3 linked regions of the Homo sapiens genome follow. The protein of the gene in region 2 interacts with the protein of the main gene of each other region in a pairwise test. Each region holds a gene or a part of one and is shown on either strand. Other genes may lie near its edges.

Evidence for each region. The genes of interacting proteins can lie anywhere in the genome.
Region 1: the proteins of EEF2KMT (region 2) and PRTFDC1 interact in binary tests that used the Homo sapiens proteins (3 or more experiments, as listed by UniProt).
Region 3: the proteins of EEF2KMT (region 2) and ZNF213 interact in binary tests that used the Homo sapiens proteins (3 or more experiments, as listed by UniProt).

The regions. Positions count from the first base shown.
Region 1 is NC_000010.11:24,846,812-24,851,632, forward strand, and holds the end of PRTFDC1 (phosphoribosyltransferase domain-containing protein 1), read right to left. Parts: intron 4,654-4,821; coding exon 4,577-4,653; intron 3,081-4,576; coding exon 3,033-3,080; 3' UTR 1,803-3,032; downstream 1-1,802. UniProt on the Homo sapiens protein: Has low, barely detectable phosphoribosyltransferase activity (in vitro). Binds GMP, IMP and alpha-D-5-phosphoribosyl 1-pyrophosphate (PRPP). Is not expected to contribute to purine metabolism or GMP salvage.
Region 2 is NC_000016.10:5,093,733-5,103,972, forward strand, and holds the start of EEF2KMT (protein-lysine N-methyltransferase EEF2KMT), read right to left. Parts: upstream 4,064-10,240; 5' UTR 4,008-4,063; coding exon 3,912-4,007; intron 3,622-3,911; exon of another isoform or gene 3,548-3,621; intron 1,783-3,547; coding exon 1,720-1,782; intron 1-1,719. UniProt on the Homo sapiens protein: Catalyzes the trimethylation of eukaryotic elongation factor 2 (EEF2) on 'Lys-525'.
Region 3 is NC_000016.10:3,138,003-3,144,606, reverse strand, and holds the end of ZNF213 (zinc finger protein 213), read right to left. Parts: intron 6,254-6,604; exon of another isoform or gene 6,190-6,253; coding exon 6,066-6,189; intron 5,863-6,065; coding exon 5,789-5,862; intron 5,633-5,788; coding exon 5,509-5,632; intron 3,972-5,508; coding exon of another isoform or gene 3,919-3,971; coding exon 3,260-3,918; 3' UTR 1,803-3,259; downstream 1-1,802. UniProt on the Homo sapiens protein: May be involved in transcriptional regulation.

The DNA.
Region 1 (4,821 bases), on a different chromosome or scaffold from region 2:
ACCCCAAAGCTTCCCCGTGCTCCTCAATGAAATGTGAAGAACAGCTGGCCTGTCAGCTCCACTATGCAGCACAAAGATAACCATGAATGCAGCTCTTTAGGCTGGTGTCTTAGTCTTCCTCTTTGCACCGGGCTCAGAAGCCATCATGGGTGTATGACTGGCCAAGAAATAATGCAGCCCTCTCCATGCACACCCTCTTCCTATTTCTGCACACCTCCCCTCAGCAGCGTGCAAAGGCCCCTCTTGAGATCCCCTTCTTCCCTTCCTGAAACTGGCTTGTTGTTAGCTCTCAATTGTCATCTTGGGATCCAAAGGAGCTTCACGATTGCAAAGTCAGTAAAACTCCCAAATGCTAAGTTTGCCCAAATTAGTCAGATAACTGGGTGGAGAGCGTGGTTTGGGGTTTCAACTTCCTAGAACACACTACCTCTATGACAAAAGGGAGGGCATATTTCCATGACACCCGGTCTCTGGATGTGGAATAGCCTGCTTTTTCTCTCCATTGGGAAGACACAAGTTGATTTCACAGAAGGCTGAGCAAATGCCTGACTGTGCTCTGAAAGGCTGTTTTCACAGTCTCAGAAGGCCTGAAACATGGCAAGCCATCTTATACGCAAAGATTAAACAAGGTATGTCGGGATTTGACTATTTGCCATTTACATCTAGGGGGTCCGTGGGTCAAAAATGAGTACATTCCAGTCCCTGTAAGAAAGGACCAATTTATAATGAGGGGTTCTAATTTGTTTGGAAAATCCCAAAATATTACTAATTATGTTGATTATAACTGATTCCAAACTTCCCAGTGAAATACACACACACGCGCGCACACGCACACACACACACATACACACACGCACACGCACACACACATACACACACACACACATACACATTTTCCCCCTTACAAATCAGCTTTGGAACACTAAATTAATAATGGATTTGTTATTAATCAAGTAATAAGTTTTGCATTTTTGGTTTAGAGTGAATAAACTCAGTGATATTAACTAGACATGAGTTTTGCAAGAGAAAAGGAAATACTATTTTTCCCAAGATGACTTTCTTGGCTATCACTGTCAAAATATTGTCTGGTAGGAAAAAACTGCAAGCATGATTAAACTTCTTGCATATTTAGTGAATTTTCAGCATTAACTATACAAGTCCTCACAATCTTGTGAGGTAGATCAATCTCCTTTCTAATTTGAATAAACAGACTGTCCTCAGAAAGGATACTGATGCTTACTAAAATTCAACGTTTTTAAGAAAACATTTTCATATTGCATACTTATGGATAATTTTACACTTAAAACCAAATGTGTGCCTGGATTTTTCTAGGTCCTCTGACATAAACATGGCATTGTGAAAAAAAAGCTATATTCAGAGTGTTAATTTTGGTATTTCAAGAAATTCGTCAGTCAGACACAATTATAAATCTAAGCTTGGGTACCAATGCTTCTGTGAAACAAAGCTAGAAGAGATTCCTTTTGCAGACTTATCCCTTGGGATATTTGGGTGTGGCTTGTTTTCTTCTCTGACCGAAACAAAGATATGCAGGAAAATCTTCTTTTACAACTAAAATTCCTTGTTCTCACAAACGAGCTTGAGGAAAAAAAAAAGCAGCAGATCTAGCCCAGCTTAATCATTTGCTTCTACTAGTGCATATATTGGATTTAATCCAAGTTAACAAAAATAAAGCCGCAGGATAGATACATGCAGTCGTATATTTAAGCTACTGACTCACATACATGTTAATGTCTGAAAGTATTTAAAAAATATGGAGGCGGAAGAAAAACAGTAAGAAGTGATAAAACATAACAAGTTTTCTTATTCTTTATTAGTTTAAAGGAAGCTAGAACCTAATAACAATACGCCACATACGGTTCAGAACCAAACAAAAGCTGCTTAGTTATTTATTTTGCATTTGCATTTTGTAGGAAGTGAGAAAAAAACAGCTCTATTGGGACTCAAGTTTATTTTCAATTAAAATCCCCATAAATTAGGAAATGTCTTATAAAACGGAGAAATTGGAAAAAAATGTTATTCAGAAAAAAACTTTCTTGAGTGTGCTTGTTTCCTGTAGCACCTTGGATTTTGTGATCAGTCTTTTAAAGATATTTTTTAAAAAATTCAACCTCTGTCTTCACATTTAGGACAGGGCATAACAGTGTCTTGTCCTTTCATGCAAATAAGAGGAAAAATTTATACTTGCTTAGTTTCGAGCATTGAAAGCACTCGCCCCTAATTCTGCCATTTGCTCATGTCCCACATGAATAAAAGGATACAGCTTAGAAACCAGGGCCTTGCTGCTATTGTATTTTTTTCTAATTAAAATTCAGAGTATTAAACACAGTTGAGTACATCCATGCATACATGACATACCGTCATCACATACCGGAAGCTCCAATCAAGAGCCCCGAGCAAAGCTCGTTTCATAACATCATTAAGATTCATTGTACACTGCGTTTCAGAAAGGCTTTGTCAAAGCAGATAATAATGGCCTGTCAGAAATGCACAAACAGAAATTTATATTAAATTGTCCTTTCCCTCCTTTTAAAATATGGGAATCTATTAATAGCTGCATTCCCGGTATAGGGGACTCAAGTCTTCAGTTAAAAAAAAGTCCCCAGCTTCTTAATATTGTAAGCTTATTACCAAAATAAGAGTATAAAAAGTTAAGTGAAAAATATTTGAGTAACTAGGTGGGGGTATTCCTGGGAATACTAATCAAATATAATGACTGTATCAAAACAAAGGAAGGCGGAGCTCAGGAGTGTGAAGGTAGATAGCATTGCTGAGTCACAAGGCGGAGTGTTTAATTTGGAACAAGTCAAATAAAAGCACTGCTTTCTTTTCCTTAGGAACCTTTGATACTCTTTATATTAACCTCAGAAAAGAAAGCTCTCTCATTTGAACATTTTTTTCTTTTATATCCTGCTGAGTGAAGATGCCTGGGGGGACAAACTTGACAGCTGGCTTCCCAAGTACAGGCGTAAATATGATGCTATCTGGGACTTTAGTGGTGAGAATTCATGTCTTTAGACTCGATATTTTTCTTTACCGTGCTCATTGATGACGCATATGTGCTGAAACAATAAAGGATTTAAACGCATCAGTTTCTTAACAAAATATGAGACACAGAAAAGGTGATGCAGTAATAACCGAATGCCATCCTGTAATTGGCTATTGATCATTTAAATAGAAATGTGTGTATTTATATGTGTGGGTAAAATCTAAAGAGACCCATTCAAGTGCTTGACAAAAGGTCCTTTGTGGTTTAGTTTGGAGATTCCTATTCTGAATCCGGCTCCCCAGGTCCCTAAAACCCAGAAATGCTGAGGGAGCTGTATGTTTAGCCCTGCTAGAAACAGAAGTCTCCTACTGGTAAGATGACAACTGCTTGGGTGAATGGAGAAATAACAGTGGCAAGCACAACATGGGCTCTTATTCAACCCTTTTTGGGCAACAAGCAAAGGGTTAGGAATATTTTGATTGAAAGCAACAGAAATGGGGCCAGGCTAATGTAAGCAAAAAAGGAGGATTTGGATGGGCTCAGTGGCCCCTGTCTGTAATCCCAGTACTTTGGGAGGCTGAGGTGGGAGCATGATTTGAAGCCAGGAGTTCAAGACCAGCCTGGACAGCATACGAAGACCCCATCTCTACAGCAAGTAAAAATATTAGCTAGGCATAGTGGCGTGTGCCTGTAGTCCCAGCTACTCAGGAGGCTGAGGCGGGAGGATCGCTTGAGCCTGGGAGTTCAAGGCTGCAGTGAGCTATGATTGCGTCACTGCACTCTAGCCTAGGTGAGACTGTGGAGTGAGACCCTGTGTCTTTAAAGAGGGGGGAGGGGGAATTTATTGGTGGAATACTGGGGTAGCTCTCAGAATCCAAGGATGAGCTGGGCAATGAAGCAACTAGAAGGCAGGAACAAGGGCAGCTCCAGAGACTTTCACCCATGGTGCTATGGATACTCTCTGGGGGCACTGCTATCCTAGTGGTTGAAGTCTGAACACACTCAGTCTCTGTGACTTTTGGTTTAAATTTCTAATTCCCAGGACAGAGAGACTGATTGGTCCACTATGGGTAAGTTGTCTACCTCTAGATCATGCAGTGTTGGTCAGGGTCACACAGCTGGGGTCCACACTGGGGGTCCACGTCTGTGTGGTGAGATCATTTCCCCCAAAGAGGGAAGAGTTATGAGCTGCATGCCACTGTAATTGAAACCTGCTAGAGTTCAAGCACTGACACAAACCAGTGTATAGAATATTGGCTATTGTTATGGTTGGTTGGGCACAGTCAATGACTATGGAGAAGAATCAGTGTCAAACCATAGTTCTGCTTTTAGCTTCCTATTTCTTTAGTACAAAATAGAGATAATCATAATTTGCCTCTATCATCCTGATACCTACCCTGCAGAATAGTAGTGGGAGTTAATTGGGAGTATGGATGCAATGTGCTCACCATACTCCTGACATAGAAGATACTCAATCAATAGCAGACATCACTAACACGCATTCAATACTTTTTTAAATTGTTAAGTTCTTATAAAAAGGGCGGTTAGGGATTTGCATGCAAGACTTACATTCAGATCTCTGAAGTATTCATTGTAATCTAAGGCATATCCCACCACAAATAAGTTTGGAATCTCAAATCCAGCATCTTAGCAGACAGAGAAAGAGAAAAAAAAAAAGGAACAAAATTTAGATTATATAAATGCAAGTCACCATATGCTGCTGTCGCCACTCAAACTTGAGGACCTTTCATTGAGGCAGGAGGGAGTGAGAAATGGTGAGAAATGCACACGATGAGCCCAAGAGGGACCTGGAC
Region 2 (10,240 bases):
AGCTGTTTCCTAAAAATGCTTCCACTGCAGTGGCACAGGCTATGGCAGCATTTCTAACGCCCATTCTGAGCAGGAACACAGGGCATGTGGGCCCAAACCGCCTCCCTCCCAGGGGAGCCAGTGTGAACCAGGGTTTGCAGTAAGGACAGTCGCCAACGGTCTGGCTCTATGGAAGAGGCGGGAAGGCCCACTCGGCAACTGCTCTCTTGGAGTGTGTGTCCCTGGGGACAGGATGGAGGGGACGGGACGCTCCGGGTGACACTCCAGCTAAAGCCCAGAGAAGCCAAATGCAGGATGAGCAAGTTCTAGGCAGTGGGAACAGCTGGTGCAAGCTCTGAGGTGGCCACAGCCTGGCACTTGGAAAGGAGGGCAGAGGGACTGGTGCAGCAGGAGTGGGGACGGCGGGAAAACAGGAGCCTGGAGGGAGAGGGAGGAGACGGTCCACAGTGCCTGCTGGCTGGGAGGGATGCAGATTCTGCCCAAGGGCAGCAAAGTACCCCACGCAATACACAGGCTCTTCAGGCTGGTGCTGGTTTTTCATTTATTCTGACACAGAGTCTCGCCCTGTTGCCCAGGCTGGAGTGCAGTGGCCCGATCTTGGCTCACTGCAGCCTCTGCCTCCTGGGTTCAAGCGATTCTCCTGCCTCAGCCTCCTGAGTAGCTGGGACTATAGGCATGTACCACCACGCCCAGCTAATTTTTGTATTTTTAGTAGAGATGGGTTTTTGCCATGTTGGCTAGGCTGGTCTGGAACTCCTGACCTTAGGTGATCTGTCCACCTCAGCCTCCCAAAGTCCTGGGATTACAGGTGTGAGCCAGTGCACCCAGCCTTGTGCTGGGTTTTAAAGCAGCTCTCCCTACATTTCATGCTTCACCACCTACGAGAGTGAGGCTCAGGGTGAAACTCAGAGCAGGGTGCGAGATAACTTCAGGTATCTCCATGCTCGAAGCCCTGGTATTGCCCCGAAAGTTTTCCCTGCTGTGGCTGTATCTTTTCCACATGGATAATCTTGGTTCACCTCTAGCACAGGAATTCTTCACCGGGGCTCCTAGGATGGGCTGGGTGGGTGGGGGTGGAGGATATCTGCCTCCTGAGTTTGTATGGAAAATGTATTCTTCTGGTGCACTTCTTTCTGCGAGGGAGTCTATTGCTTGGTCTTTTCAGAAGGGCTCATGGCCCTTCGAACGTGAAGACCCAGGATGCAGGGTGATCTGCACTTGGCCCTCAAGGCCAAGGTCAGGCTGTGGCTGGGCCGGGTGGTGATCCTGCCTCTCACCTGCAGGCAGATGCACTTGAGTCCAAACCCCACCCTGGGCAAAGCAAGGGCCCATTTAGGTCTAGAGGAGACAGGAGTGGGCAGGACAGGCCTCATGAAAGCAAAAAAGAAAGTCTCTGAACATCAACCAAATGCTAGAAGCTGTTTTGCACCTGTCATCTCTGTTTTTGCTGTGGATGGTTTAAAAAACATTCCCTAGATTCCCCCCTCTCATTGCAGGTTTTTGTATATTCTGAAGTCTTTGTCTAAGTCTTAAATAGAAAACGAAAGCGCTGGAGCTGTCAGAGGTGCTGACACCCACCTGCAGTGCTGACTCAATGGTTTTGTTTTTTGAACAGGGGTGTTTTTAAAGGGTACAAGCACACCTGCAGTTCTTCTCTCAGGTCTTCTGGAGAGATTCAGGAGGCAGGGTCATGAGTCCCAGGGACTCTGGGATTCTTACCTTGTGCAAAATATCCCGCAGCAGCTCAGAATCTGATGAGTCTCTTAACTTTGCTTCTAAGCTCTGTGTGGAGGGGAAAGAGAGAAATCTCAAGGGCGCATTCACAGGAACATTAAACACGCAATAGAATGTGTTGGCAAAGCGCTGTGTGATCCCTCCCTGGGGACGTGGAGCCAGTTGGAAGTGGAAGCCACAGCGGCTGAAAGCCTGACATTCAGATGTCGCAGGGTGCACCTGGATGAGTCACAGGAAGAAGGCTGACTTTTGGCCACATTAGTCCTGGCTACTTAGCGGCCACCCGGGTCATGGGCCAGCTCCCTGGTTGCACTGCTCAGCCAGGAATTACCAGGGCAGCCATGGCACCAAGGTTTGATGGGCTTGCCATCTAAGTGGAGATGCAGAATGTGCCCATACCAGCCTGAGTTACATTATCCTCTTACAGGGGCCTCAAGCCCAGCAGCGAGCCTTGGCTCCCGAGTTAGGCAGACTGTCTCGGCTGGTATGTGACACAGGGCAAGGCACTTCATTGCTTCAGAGCTCCCTCCATGCCATAAAAGGCCCTACAAGACCTGGTCCTAATCCCTCTCTCTGGCCTGTTCTCCCTCACCCCTGGCCCACCCTGCTCACTCCACTCCAGCCACACTGGCTGCCTTGGTGTTGTTCCTCAACCACAGCTGGCTTGTTTCCACCACAGGGCCTTTGCATATCCTGTTCCCCAAGCCCTTCCCATGGCTGGCTGCTTCACCACTCAGGCCCCAGTTCAAATGCCACCTCTTTGGGGAAGGCTTCCCTGATTCCCTGACTTTGGTGACTCTTCTTCCCAGTTCCCGCATTCACTATTTCCCTGTTTTATTGGCTTTAAAGCCACTGTCATCTGGTCTTTTCTTGTTTATTTATTTGTTTATTCTCTGGCTCTCCCATGCAAGCAGAGCCTCATCTGTCATGGGTACTGCTGATCCATGGTGCCTGGCTCACAGAAGGCATTTATTAAACATTTTGAGACTGAATAAAAACACTAGCTAACACCAACATGTATTTACCATGAGCCAGGCACTGATCCACAGGCTTTTGTACTCAACCCTGACAACAACCCTAAGAGGTAGGTATCATTATATCCCCCATTTTATTAATAAGAAAACAGCACAGAGAGATGCAGTCACTTGCCCAAGGTCACACAGGGCCAGGGGCTGGGCCAGGATTCGAAGCAGACAGGCTGTCTCCTGGGTCTGAACTCTCAACTACTGCACCCTAATCAAACAATCCCTCTGGTCAAATGTGAGTGGTAATAATAGTACCCACCTCGTGGGTGTTGAGGGTGAGCCCAAGTTAGCATTCAGCGTGGGCATGTGAACAATTACAGTCAATACTGAATGGAGACCTATGATGCTTTTATGAAGGTTTCTATTTTGGGTTAAAAATGCACGAATTTCTCTTGACCAGAAATGATCTCTGAGTGCAAATATTTTATGTCAATGGAATAACGCAAATGATTAAGCAACACCCCATAAAATGGGGCAGACCCAGGGAGGAATATATATCCAAACTCACTCATCCCAGTGAGCTCACCGCACATGAATTACAAATGAGGCCGGGTGCATTAAGCCCCTCTGCTGGCAGAAGGGAGGCTGCTGCCTGCCATGGGCCTGTGCTGAGAATGGCAGGTCCCCAGGGCGAGGAGAGGCCACCCCCTTCTCTGTCTCTTCCATCACAGGCGTGACAGCCTCAGAGCATGAGCCGATTCTGTGCAGTGCTCAACATACAGATGAGAATACTGAGGCACGAGGGACAGCCTGTGACCCGGTCACCGCGCTCAGGAGGACGTGGTTACCTGCGGTCCTGACGGCGCTGACTTTTTAGAATGGGCGAGGGCAGCTGTGTCCCAGTGACCAGAACGATTACTGCCTTTAAAAAGTCGTGAAAATGATCGTGAACTGTACCCCACACCGAGCGCGCGTCTGCCCCCCAAGGCTGTGGAGACGCCCCCAGCTTCCCCCGCCAGCTCGCGGGGCAGGAGGGGTGCGAGCGACTCTGGCCAGGCCCCAGGGACGGGGACCGGGTCGCGCGGCCCTGACCGGCGGGAGCCCAGGAACTCACGTGGCGGGAGCGCCAGGGGCTTCAGCACGGAGACCCGTCCCGTCTGCCCCTGGACTCCCGCGAGCCCCGCGGGCCTCTCCGCTCGCCCCGCCGCCCACCTGCCAGGGGAAGGAGCGCAGTGTGCGTGCCGCCAGGAAGCGGCGCTCGAAACTCTGCAGCAAGAGTTCGGTCCCCGCGTTCTCCTCGGGCGCCATGACGTGGGCGGGGCCGCAGCGTTGCCGGCAGACCGGGCGGAAGCCCGGCCTGGACTGAAGAGGGGGCGGGCCCAGGGCAGTGAGCGGGGGCAGAGAGGGGGCGGGGCCCGGGGGTCCCCCGGGGGTCAGGAGGAACGTCGTGGGGGCGGACTCTAGGGCGGGGCCAGGATGATTGTTATGAGGGCGGGGCCTGGGGTGGGGCCAGGATAAGCGTCGTTGGGGCAGGTCCTGGGTAGGGGGCAGGTCCTGGGTAGAGTCCAGGTTGGCGGGTCCTGGGGCGGGGCCAGGATAGGGCGATCCTGGAAGCTGGGCTTCAGAAGCGTCCAGGTTGGTGGCGTCCTGGAGGCGGGGCCTTGCGTGGGGGCAGGATAAGAGTCCTGGAGGCGGGCATTAGGGCAGGGATAAACGCCATTGGGTTCAGGAGGCGAGACTCGGAGCAGAGCCCAGGAGACAGGTCTTAGGGCGGCGCTAAGGCCAGACCCAGAGAAGAGCTCAGGAGGCGGGGCCGGGGCGGGGCGTTGACTATGTCGTAGCACATGGCCAGGCGGTGCTCGGACTCTGGGAGGCGGAGCTTAGGACGGGCCGACGTGGGGAGGGGCCCAGGGTCCGGGAGGCGGGGCCGAGTCCGGGCTGCGGGCTGCGCTCAGGAGGCGGGCCCTGGGAGGCGGAGCTTAGGGAGGGGCCGGTGTCGGGAGGGACCCAGGGACTGGGAGGCCGGTCGGGGCTGGGCTCAGGGGCCGAGACCTAGCTGGGCTTGGGGCGGGGCCGAGACGGAGCGAGGGGTCCAGGGCGTGGGAAACGGGGAGGGGTTTGAGGAGGGGATCGGAATGTGGCTCAAGTTCGGGAGGCGTTACCTGTGGAGGGTTTGAGGCAGGCCCAGCAGCGAGGCCACGGTCTGCCGACGCGGGGCCAGGGGCGGGCCCCAGGATCCGGAGCTTAGGGCGGGGCCGAGTCCGGGTTTGGGGACCGGGAGGCGGGGCCGGTTAGGGCGAGGGTCCCTGGGATCGTCGGGTCAGGCCTTGGGCCAACGTAGGCACTCTCGCAGTTCCTCCGCCTTCAGGAAGGTCTTTTTGGCAGGGGCCCTACGGGTGCGCGCTTCGGTCCTGGAGGCCTTATCCAAGCCTCCTCTCCATCAGCGCCACCCGTCTGGGGTCCGAAAGGAGGGAGCTTTCCCTCTGTCCCCCAGCCTTTGGACTGTCACCAAACAAGCCATTCGTTCACCAAATACTTATTAAGCGCCTACCAGGTACCTGACAAGGGAGATGTAACGGTGAGAAAAACTAGGTGTGGTCCAGGCCCTCCAGGGGCTCAGGGGCTCGTGGAAGAAGTGGACATTGAAGTATTTATCACACAAATGAGTATAAAAGTACAATAGCGATATCTGCCACGAAGGCGAGCAGACAGAGCTAGCGGGGCTTGCAGGAGGAGTTTTGATCTTGCAGGGACAGGAAGGAGGAGTTAGCTCCTGCGGGGTGGGATTGGGGGTGGTGGTGATATAGACGTGGGGACAGAGTGGAAAACAACAAAAATATAATTAATTTAGTTCAAAGTTATTGTGTCTTGAGTTGAAAGGCAGGGCAGTTAGCAACACAGTTCAGATTTCAGTACTGCCCCTGAAATCTGAACTGTGTTCAAAGTCTAAAACGTTTACCTTAGCAAATCCCTCATAAAACTCCATTTGGAAGAGTCCCGAGAGCTAATTTGTAAAGTATACTTGCAGAAGGTAGATGAGGAGACAGATTAAATCTTATTACCTCTTTCAGATGAGAGGCTCTTGAGCCCTGCTCAGCTATGAGAATAAGAGGGGAATTAATTCTAATAGAATACACTTGTTCTCGCATAGCTGTTGTTCCCCACCAGAACCAAATGAGCTCAAGATCTGACAAAGAAAAAAAAAAAGGTTCATCTTTTATTCCCCCAAACACTTTCATTTAAATCAAGAGGGTGGGATGTGGTTATTGCTGTGTTTTTAGACAGAATCAACAGTTTCTGGGTCTGAGATATTGCATACACCCTCTCAGTCCCTGTATCCTGAGATAGAGTCACCTGATAATCCACAGCAAGTCCTAACCAGGGATGGGTCTGGGTGCTTAAGGAAGGTTGGCTTCAGAACTGGGCCAGGGGCACTGCTTTGCTTTTGCTGTTTTGATCAGCTCTCTGCCTGCAGGAGACAAGGAAAACCAATGGTAACAAGTTAGTTACACTCATAAATCCTGGGCTTATTTTATTAACTCACATAATAGCTATTAATTGCCTTTCCTCCAAGGAGCAAAAGGGCATATACGGTCAATGCTGTAATAAGTAACACTGTATTATGTTATACTAAAATATTAATAAATCTAGGTTGGTTCAGTCTTTCCTGATTCCATAGATTGCAAGCAGATTGAGGAAGGACCCTAGCAGACCACAGAGCTGAGCCATGAGCACAGAAGAAATCTTTTTTTCTTTTTTTTTTTTTTGAGACGGAGTTTCGTTCTCTTGTTGCCCAGGCTGGAGTGCAATGGCGCAATCTCGGCTCACTGCAACCTCTACCTCCCGGGTTCAACCGATTCTCCTGCTTCAGCCTCCCGAGTAGCTGGGATTACAGGCGTGAGCCACCATGCCGGGCCATTTTTGTATTTTTAGTGGAGACAGGGTTTTAACACGTTGGCCAGGCTGGTCTCAAATTCCTGACCGCAGGTGATCCGCCCGCCTCTGTCTCCCAAAGTGCTGGGATTACAGGCGTGAACCACCGCGCCTGGCCAGAAGAAATCTTTATCTTGGTGTGCGGGTTCAGATGAGGGACAAATGTCATCTCTCTTGGATCTGAATCTGGAAGGATCAAGGCACTGAAGGGATTTTTTTTGTTTCAGAGAGTCTAGAGTCTCCCTCTGTCGCCAGGCTGGAGTGCAGCGGCACGATCTCGGCTTCTGCAAATTCTGCCTCCCGGGCTCAAGCGATTCTCCTGCCTTAGCCTCCGGAGTAGCTGGGACTACAGGCACGCGTCCCCATGCCCGGCTAATTTTTGTATTTTTAGTAGAGACGGGGTTTCACCATGTTGGTCAGGATGGTCTCAATCTCTTGACCTCATGATCCATCTGCCTTGGCCTCCCAAAGGGCTGGGATTACAGGCGTGAGCCACCATGCCCGGCCTCACTGAAGGGATTTTTTTAATGTCACGTGGCTGTCACAGGTGCGGTGTGTTCGGGTGCAAGTGAAGATTAGGACTGATGCTTAAAAACAAACGTGAAATTCCAGGCGGTGTTGCTACGGGGAGCAGCATCAGGACAAGCTGGTTTCAGTTGCAAGAGTTTGCGTGTACGTGCAAGAACTACAGTCGAGATTCAACTTCCGGCTTTGAGGGTCTCTTTAATAACAGTAATAACAACCTAAGGCAGTTTAACAGTATGGAATGGTTGCCTTTTAGAAGTTAAGCTATGGGCATGGAAGTTCAATCAGTCCATTGAAGTTTTTCCTTTATCTCTCCTATGGTTAATGGTTTCTGCAGAAAAGGACCAATTGATTTCTTTCTAAAACGTTGCTTCAGGGTGTAGAGACCTTTATAGGTCATGTTTCAACTTACAGAAAATTTTATAGTTCAAATATAAATTACGTTCAATGTGGACTTTGCAATAGAATTGAAGGTTAAGTAAAGTTTCCACTTTCCTTAGGCTGTTTGCAGTGCCCAGCAGGCCCCATGATATCGAGGTGGAAGTTATGTTAAAGGAGGAGGTTGGTCAGGGATGGGTAGAATAAGGAATATGCGCAGCTCAGGCTAATGATGCAATGACTGAGGTGTAGAAAGAGGGCCAGGCACGGGATAACGCCTGTAATCTCAGTGCTTTGGGAGGCCAAGGCAAGAGGATCACTTGAGGTCAGGAGACCAGCCTGGTCAACAGAGTGAGCAGAGTGAGACCTAACCTGTACAAAAAAACCACAAAAAACCAAAAAAATTAGTTGGGCATGATGGTGTGCGCCTGTAGTCTCAGCCACTTGGAAGGCTGAGGTCAAGGGATCCCTTGAGCCCAGGAGTTTGAGGCTGTAGTGAGCTATAATCACATAACTGTACTCCAGCCTGGGTGACAGGGTGAGGCCCTGACTCAAAAAAAATTGAGTCAGGGAAAAAATTGGAAATCTTAATCCTCCGTACCCAGGAATGTGACCTTATTTGGAAATAGGGTCTTTCTAGATGTAATCAAGTAATGATGAATCGTACTGGATTGGGGGCTGCTGGTGAGGAGGCAGATGCAATGACCGGCGTCCTGATAAAAGAAGAGAATGAGGGCCGGGCATGGTGGCTCATGCCTGTAATCTCAGCACACTTTGGGAGGGTGAGGTGGGTGGATCACTTGAGGTCAGGAGTTCGAGACCAGCCTGGCCAACATGGTGAAACTCCATCTCTACTAAAAACACAAAATTAGCACTGCGTGGTGGCGGGCGCCCGTAATCCCAGCTACTCAGGAGGCTGAGGCGGGAGAATCACCGGAACCTAGGAGGCGGAGGTTACAGTGAGCCAAGATTGTGCCAGTGCACTTCAGCCTGGGTGACAGAGGGAAACTCCATCTCAAAAAAATAAAAGAGGAGAATGTCAGGTGAAGACAGAGACACAGGGAGAAGGCAGCCATGTGATGAGGGAGGAGAGATGGGAGCGATGCATCTACAAGGAACACCAAGCATTACCAGCGGCCACCAGAAGCCAGAAGAGGCAAGGAAGTATTCTCTCTTACATATTTCAGAGGAAGCGAAGCCCGGCCGACACCTTGATTTTGGGCTTCTGGCATCCAGGCCTGCGAGACAATACATTTCTGTTGTTTTCAGTCACATGCGGGGCCCTTGTTGTGTTGTGGTTTTTTTTTTTTTTGGAGATGGAGTTTCACTCTTGTGCCCCAAGCCGGAGTACAATGGCGCGACCTTGGCTCTCTGCAACCTCCTCCTCCCAGGTTCAAGCTATTCTCCTGCCTCAGCCTCCTGAGTAGCTGGGATTACAGGCATGCGCCACCTTGTCTAGCTAATTTTTCTATTTTAGTAGAGATGGGGTTTCACCATGTTGGCCGGCTGGTCTCAAAATCCTGACCTCAAGTGATCCGCCTGCCTCAGCCTCCCAAAGTGCTGGGGTTACAGGCATGAGCCACCGTGCACGGCCTTGTGGTTATTTTTTTTAGACAAGAATCCGCTGTGTCATCCAGGCTGGAGTACAGTGGTACAATCTCACCTCCTGCAGCCTCGACCTCCCTGGGCTCAGGTAATTCTCCCATCTCAGCCTCCAAGTAGCTGGGACTACACGCTTGGCTAATTTTTGTATTTTCTGTAGAGATGGGGTCTTGCTGTGTTGCCCAGGCTGGTCTCAAACTTCTTGGGCTCAAGCCATCTGCCTGCCTTGGCCTCCCAAAGTGCTAGGATTACAGGCATGAGCCACTATCCCTGGCCACCCTTGTTAAAAAATAAAGAATTTGAAGATGGTGATGGCAGATTATTAAACCACAGTGGGGACTCTTCTGTGTCCCTGTGGGACTGTCCAGGTTGCAAGCCTATGAAGCCGGCCCTGGCTGCTGGGTTCTTGGAGTGCTGGACCTCCCGTGGCATGTGGCAAGGAGTTGTCATGGGTTATCACGACATATGATGATCAACTATGGGAGACCCAAAGACCACTCAGTCCTTTTTCCGATGAATGGCTGTGTATGTCACACTAGCAACAAACAGAACCGCAAGAGCTCCTGTGACAATGCTGAGCCCGATCACTGCGCCTTGCAGAGCAGATGCCGTCTGTACCTCCCTCCTGTTAAGAAACCAGAGGGTTTTTAATTGCCTGATTATTAAGAGGCTCTTCTGGCTGCTCCTGGTTTCCTGGGAAGTTTCCCATCTAGCCGCTAGTGAGTATTCATTATGGAAATGAAATGTACATTTAACCCAAGAAAATGCTCACTCTAGAGAAATCTCATAGGGCAAGTCGTTGAAAGCCGATTTACTAAATGACCTCTTCACCAAATGACCCATTTGCCTAATGACCACTTTGCCAAATGATCAATTTGCTGAAAGCCAATTCGCTGAAAATCTGTTTGTGGGATATCCTGCTTATTAGTAACTGACAGTCAGACGCAGCTTATCCCAGGCTGCCGTTCCCCATTTTACAGCTGGGGAAAATGAGTTACAGAGCTTGTTTGCATTGAGTCAACAGGAGCAAATGCTAGATCAGGTAATTGAACCCAAGCAATCTGGTTCCAGAGCCAAATAGATGTATTTTTTATGGTACAAAA
Region 3 (6,604 bases), 2.0 Mb from region 2:
CCCCGCAGGGCCCGGCAGCCGCTCAGCTCCCGGACCAGCTGCTGTGGCTGCCTCAGCTGCCCTCTGGGGGCATCAAGGCCACTAAGGCACACCCCACAGGGCGCCCGTGGGCATCCAGCTGCTCCTGGAACCAAGCCAGTTCCTCGAGGAAGCCCTAGGGGCAAGAGTGAGACCGACCTGAGTCCGGGGAGGTTTTGGGTGGGGAGGAGATTCTGGGTCAGGGGAGAGTGGGGAAGGGGTCGGTGCTGGGCCTGAGGGTGGATGTAAGAGGCAGAGGCTCACCTGGACCGGGACCTCCCTCCTCTCGCAGCTCTCAAAGCCCAGGGCCTGGAACACGTCCTCCAGGGCAGTGACTACAGCGGCCGCCACCCCAGGGCTGCTGAGCATCAGGGCTGCCCTTGGACCCTGGACGTCATACTTCCCCTGGGGAGGCAAGGCCAGAGCTGGGCTGGGCTGGGCTGGGCTGGGGCTCAGCAGGGAGGCAGGAGCAGCTGGGCTAGGCGGTGCCTCCTGCTACCTTTCTCCCCAGGCTGTCTCGAGTGTCTGCCATCTGCGTGGCCAGCCGCAGGGTCCCAGCCACCAGGAAGGCCATAGGGCGAGACGGGGCTTCCTCCAAGCACCAAGCTCGGAGCTCACCTCCTGGCCCTGGGCTCTCAGTGCCCTGGGTCCTAACCCTTGCCCTCTACCCTAACGAGTACTATCAGCTCTGCTTATGAGCTGAGCTGGACTCTGCCCCATCCCTGGAACCCTGGGTCCTGGCCCCGCTCTCCCAGCCTGGGCTTCATTCTCTGGCTCCTGCTGGTGACTTCTTTGCTGGCACTGACATGCCCCTACCCGAGCCAGGAACCTGTGCTCAATCCTATTCTTAGCTCCTGGCCTACGTGCTTATCTGATCTCGTTACACCCGAGTGTCTCCATTTGGAGCCAGCCACCGCCACCAAGAAGTCCTTGTACCATCCCGGCCACCCGCCACACGCATGCACACAGCACCAGGCCCCCAGAGGTAAAAATCACCAACTGGAATCAGCCTTGTCCACAGCGAGACCTTGCTTGCTTCTTACGGGAAACGGAGACCATGACAGTGACCGCAGGATGATGTGTGCATGGAAGGTTGGCTAAGAAAGGCCTAGGGGCAGAGAGGGCTGGCACATGCACACCTGTTACCAAGGGACCAGAGCGTCTTGTCCACCGGCCCCCGCCTCCCCTCAGCCAGGGGCCCTGAGGCCACTAGCAGGTGAAAGAGAAGGAACCAGCATGGGTGGAAGGAGGGGTCGTGCCTGGATGATCACTAGTTTTGACCACGCACCCACCAGCCCTTGGTGGGTCCCGGCCTGGGGCTCCTGGTAGGGAGAAGTTGGATGTCAGGGGCTGGTGGGAAGGGCAAGCCCGCTGTCAGCCCCTCCTCCAAGGGACTCAGCCTGGGGCAGCCTTGAGTTCCAGATCCCCAACACGCAGCAAGAGGGTCCCACCACTGACCAAGCAGCGTCTATGGGCCCTTCTTCCTTTCACAGTTGTGGGAGAGGAGTGGCCTGGTGAAGACCCTGAGTCCTGCTCAGCTCCCCGTTCTGCTGGAGCACCGACGGTGCTCCCAGAGCAGGGCAGGCACTAGCTGACACAGGGGGACAAGAGTCCCAGGGGACACGGCTGCCCATTGGGGCCCAGCCGACCTGGACGCCAAGGACGCAGCTCCGCCTGGTCACGGTGCAGCAGCATGTGCCACCAGGACACAAGGCCAGGGCAAGGGGCATATATTCCAGGTATCCCCACCCTCCAGCTACCGAAAGAACAGAACAGCCTGGAGGTAAGTTTTCACGTTTATTAATACTCTTCTGTTGCCCTTTGGAGGTCTGAGGGGGAGTCCTTGCAGGGCCTCTGGTCTGTCCCTGTTCATGGAAGGCAGTGCTCAGGAGGCAGCAGCAAAGTGCCAATGAAGCAGGGCGTTAGTGCCGATGGAGCAGGGAGCCAGTACCGGTGGAGCTGGGCGTTGGTGCCAATGGAGCGAGGCACTGGTGCCGGTGGAGCGGGGCGTTAGTGCCGATGGAATGGGGCACCAGTGCCGTTGGAGCTGGACGTAGTGATGATGGAGCAGGGTGGTAGTGCCGACGGAGCTGGACATAGTGATGATGGAGCGGGGTGGTAGTGCCGATGGAGCCGGACGTTAGTGACAATGGAGTGGGACACCAGTGCCGATGGAGCAGGGCGTTAGTGCTGATGGAGTGGGGCACCAATGTCAAAGGAGCGGGTCATTAGTGCCGCTGGAGTTGGGGCGTTAGTGCCAATGGAGTGGAGCATTAGTGCTGATGGAGTGGGGCGCCGAGTGGGGCATTAGTGCCGATGGAGCGGGGCCGATGGAGTGGGGCGCCGAGTGGAGCATTAGTGCCGATGGAGCAGGGCGCCAGTGCCGATGGAGCAGGGTGCCGGGGCCGATGGAGTGAGGTGCTAGTGCTGATGGAGTGAGGTGCTAGTGCTGATGGAGTGCTAGTGCTGAGTCTGGTGCAGCCCCACCTCTGGAGGAAAAGATGGCAGCCAGGCGCCCTGTTCTTGGTCTCCAGGGTTGGCCTCCTGTCGCTGGAGCCACCATTATCCTCACCAGATTGGTGGGCAGGTGGCTCTCAGAGCCTCATGCTAGGGCAAGTAGGCCGAGGGCAAAGGCAGGCCGAGTCCGTATGGCCAGGACAGGGCAGAGTGGTCATGGCCTGGAAACGGGAGTGGGAGGGGGCCAGAAAGCCCCTGCCGCCGTGACTAAGACCCGCGGTCCCACAGGTGTGGGCTGTCTCTCCCAAAGTCCAGCAGCCCCCTGGGGGGCCAAGGCCAGTCCTCCACGCCCACTGAAAGGCACAGGTTGGTAGGGCAGAGGCCTGACCCATGGACCCACCCCACAGGGTGGGGGCCAAAGAGCCACACAGTCAAATGAGGCTCGGGGGCTTCTGGGAAGGGACCTAGACCTGAGTCCTTGCCACCCTGCTGTCCCTGCCAGGAATGTGTTGGGGCTCCAGGAAACTAGAGGGGAAGAGGAACGCTAGGCGCAGAAGGGGGAAAGAGGACAAGATCGGGGGCGGGAGGGGAAGGCTTCCGTTCCCTTTGAGCGCTGGGCAGGTCCTCAGAGCCAAGCAGGGCAGGCGAGCTCCGAGTGTGAGGTACCCTGGGGTCCCTCGGACAGCCCGGGAGGTGGCCACAGATGGAAGGAGAGTCCCAGTGGTGAACAAAGCAGGATGTGCCGTGGCTGGGCCTCCCCCGGGTTTCCGGCCAAGCCAGCTGCTCACCCCACGGGCTGGGCCATCTTGGCGTGCAGGCTCTGATGCGCGATGAGGTGCGCGCGCTGCTTGAAGCTCTTGTCGCACTCTCCGCAGCCGAAGGGCCGCTCACCGGTGTGCACACGCCGATGGTCCAGCAGGTAGGAGCGCAGCGAGAAGCTCTTGCCGCAGTCGCTGCAGCCGAAAGGCTTCTCGCCCGTGTGTATGCGCTGGTGGTCGGCCAGGTAGGCGCTGCGGCTGAAGCTCTTGCCGCACTCGGAACAGGAGAAGGGCTTCTCGCCCGTGTGCACGCCTTGGTGGCGCACCAGGTCCGAGGAGCTGCGGAAGCTCTTGTCGCACTCAGGGCACTTGTGTGGCTTCTCGCCCGTGTGCGTGCGCTGGTGCCGCGCCAGGTCCGAGCCCCAGCGGAAGCGCTTTCCACACTGCCCGCAGCTGTGCGGCTTCTCGGCTGCCAGGTCCCGGAACTGGCGCCGGCGAGTGGGTGGCCGCCCCCGTCGCGCGCCCACCACTGGGCCCAGGGCCGCCCTCGGCCGGTTCTCGCTCTCCCAGGCCTCAGCCTCCTCGGGGCTCCAGGACACAGTCACGTCGCTGCCTGTCTGGCCTGGCACCACCGGCACCATCTCCTGCAGCAGGGACTTCTCACTTTGGCCTTTGAGCCCAAAACCTGCAAGGGGAAGGAGGCGACCTCTTCAGTCCCACGCGGTTCTGGGGCCAGAGCTGAGGTGAGGAAGAAACAAGGCTGGGGAAAGCTCCCTGGCCTCCAGGTTCAGAAAGCCCTGGGTTCACACAGCTGAATTCTCAGGTTCCTCATCTATAAAACAGGGATGATTGGCCAGGCGCAGTGACTCAAGCCTGTAATCCCAACATTTTGGGAGGCTGAGGCGAGCTGATCACCTGAGGTTAGGAGTTCGAGACCAGCCTGGCCAACATGGTGAAACCCCGTCTCTATTAAAAAATGCAAAAATCAGCAGGGCATGGTGGCGCACATCTGTAATCCCAGCTACTCAGGAGGCTGAGGTAGAAGAATCACTTGAACCCATGAAGCGGAGGTTGCAGTAAGCCGGGATCATGCCATTGCACTCCAAGAGCGAGACTTTGTCTCAAAAACAAACAAAAACCCAAATAAATCAGGGATGATGAAAAAATTCGGCAGAGCAGCAGTCTGAATAAGCCTCTGATCCCGCCTGCATGGGCCAGCCCCCTAAGCCATCTGTGCCCTGCAGGCCACACTGGGATCCAATGTCCCACTCTGAACCCCAGATATCAAGCTCCACAGCAGAACAGATTTATAGTAATTCTGAAACTTTTCAAGGGCCGGGCGCGGTGGCTCACGCCTGTAATCCCAGCACTTTGGGAGGCTGAGGCAGGCGGATCATGAAGTCAGGAGTTCGAGACCAGCCTGACCAACATGGTGAAAACTCGTCTCTATTAAAAATACAAAAAAATTAGCCGGGCATGGTGGCTCATGCCTGTAATCCCAGCTACTCAGGCTGAGGCAGGAGAATTGCTTGAACCCGGGAGGTGGAAGTTTCAGTGAGCTGAGATCACACCACTGCATTCCGGCCTGGCGACAGAGCAAGACTCCATCTCAAAAAAAAAAAAAAGAAAGAAAATTTTTCCCAACCGTCACAGTCGGAAACTGAGGAGCCAAACTGGTCTAGCTAGTGTGGCTCCCTTCACCACGCAGGCTCTAGTTCTCCAAACTCAACACAGATCTGGACAGAGGTCGCAGCCCATCCTCCTGGGAGTGTGACTGAACAAGATGATCCCTGATGGTGCTGAGAAGGGGCCTGGCATGGAGAGGAACCTGGTAAGTGCAGTTCTGACGAGCAGGGGCCCAGGCTGGTGAGCAGCTGGGGTTCCCCGTCAGCACCCCTGCTCCTAGCAGCCCAAGGTGGCCTCACAACTGTGCCTGATCCAAGTCCCAGCTGTGTCCCTTCAGCATCCACTGACCTGAGTCTCAGGTCCCTTATGCGTAAAATGGGGACAATACTTCCATGCACTAGGTTGTGAGACTCAAAGGAGAAGTTGCCCTTAGAGCAACTGCAGGGCTGGGCAGCGCCGGCGCCGTCCCATGCTGCATGTGGAAACGCACAAAAACTGATCATCAGCCAAGAAAGGAGTTACTCAGGCTCCTGGCAAGACCTAGGGAGAGCCTGCTTTGGAACCAGCTAAGGATGGGGTGGGAAACAAGACTGAAGTTCCAGCAGAATCGGGGGCGGCCAGCCTGGACCCAAAGGCCCTGGGTGCTTACCCAGGGTGGTGTTCCGGGAGTTCTCCCGCTTTATGTCCCAGAAGAGATCCCGCTGAGCAGGGTCCAGGGTGCCCCATTCTTCCCGGGAGAAATAGAATGGGATGTCTCCCAATGCCACAGGTCCCTGGAATGGGGTGAGAAGACCCGGCTCAGGCCTCCCAGCAGCACTGGCGGGGACAGGATGGGTCAGATGAAAGAGGCCTGATGGGACAGCAAGTCCCATTTTACAAACTCAACAGGGCCAAGTGCCTTAAAGAAGACAAAGGGACTGGTGACTCACATGGACCCCAGAGACAAAGCAGGTGTCCGTCGTCTCTCCGGGACGACCCTCTTTAAGAAGAGCAGGAGGCTGGGCTGAAGGAGAAGAATGGAGCCTTAGAAAGGCCAGCCCAGGCTTGACACCGACGCCTATGGCCTCCCCAGCCTGTGCGCATGCACACACGCCCTGGACTTCACAGAGGGAGCTGTCCTGCCTGTGACCCTTAGGGCAACGCCGGTGACAAAGCTAGGTCCCTGCCCAGCCACTCGACTGTCCACAAGAACGGAGGCTTACTCACCGCTATGGCTGTGCTGCTCCTGGGGAACAGACGGCCGCCTCCGTGCCCCCACCGTCGGGGGAGGCCCCGTGGCCTGGGATCCCCGGCCTGCAGCCTCGGGTTCCGCCTCCTCCGAGGGCACATCCTGTGCAGGAACCACAACATGCTCATCAGCCCGAGACCAGACCGGGGGAGACAGAGTTTACTCCCTGGGAAGGAGACACAGGACATGACCCTCAGGATGCTGGGGTGTGGGAAGGAGACCAATATGGTGCCCCAGGAAAAGTCCGGAGGAGAATGTGATACCAGGTAATGCTGTGTGCCCAAGGATGCTCCCCGATCATTCACGAGGCAAGAACCAGCCCTGAAAGGCCAGAATCACAGCCACTTAGCAAGGGGGTAGCTGGGGACCCTCCTGCCAAAGGCAGAACCCCATCCCCCAGCCACTCATTAGAACCTCCCCAGATGCATCCAATGTGAAGGACCCAACATCCCACAAGGTAGCAGAGGCCCCGGACAGCTCCACCTTCTCGCCCCACTCTGGAGCTGGCTCTATGCAC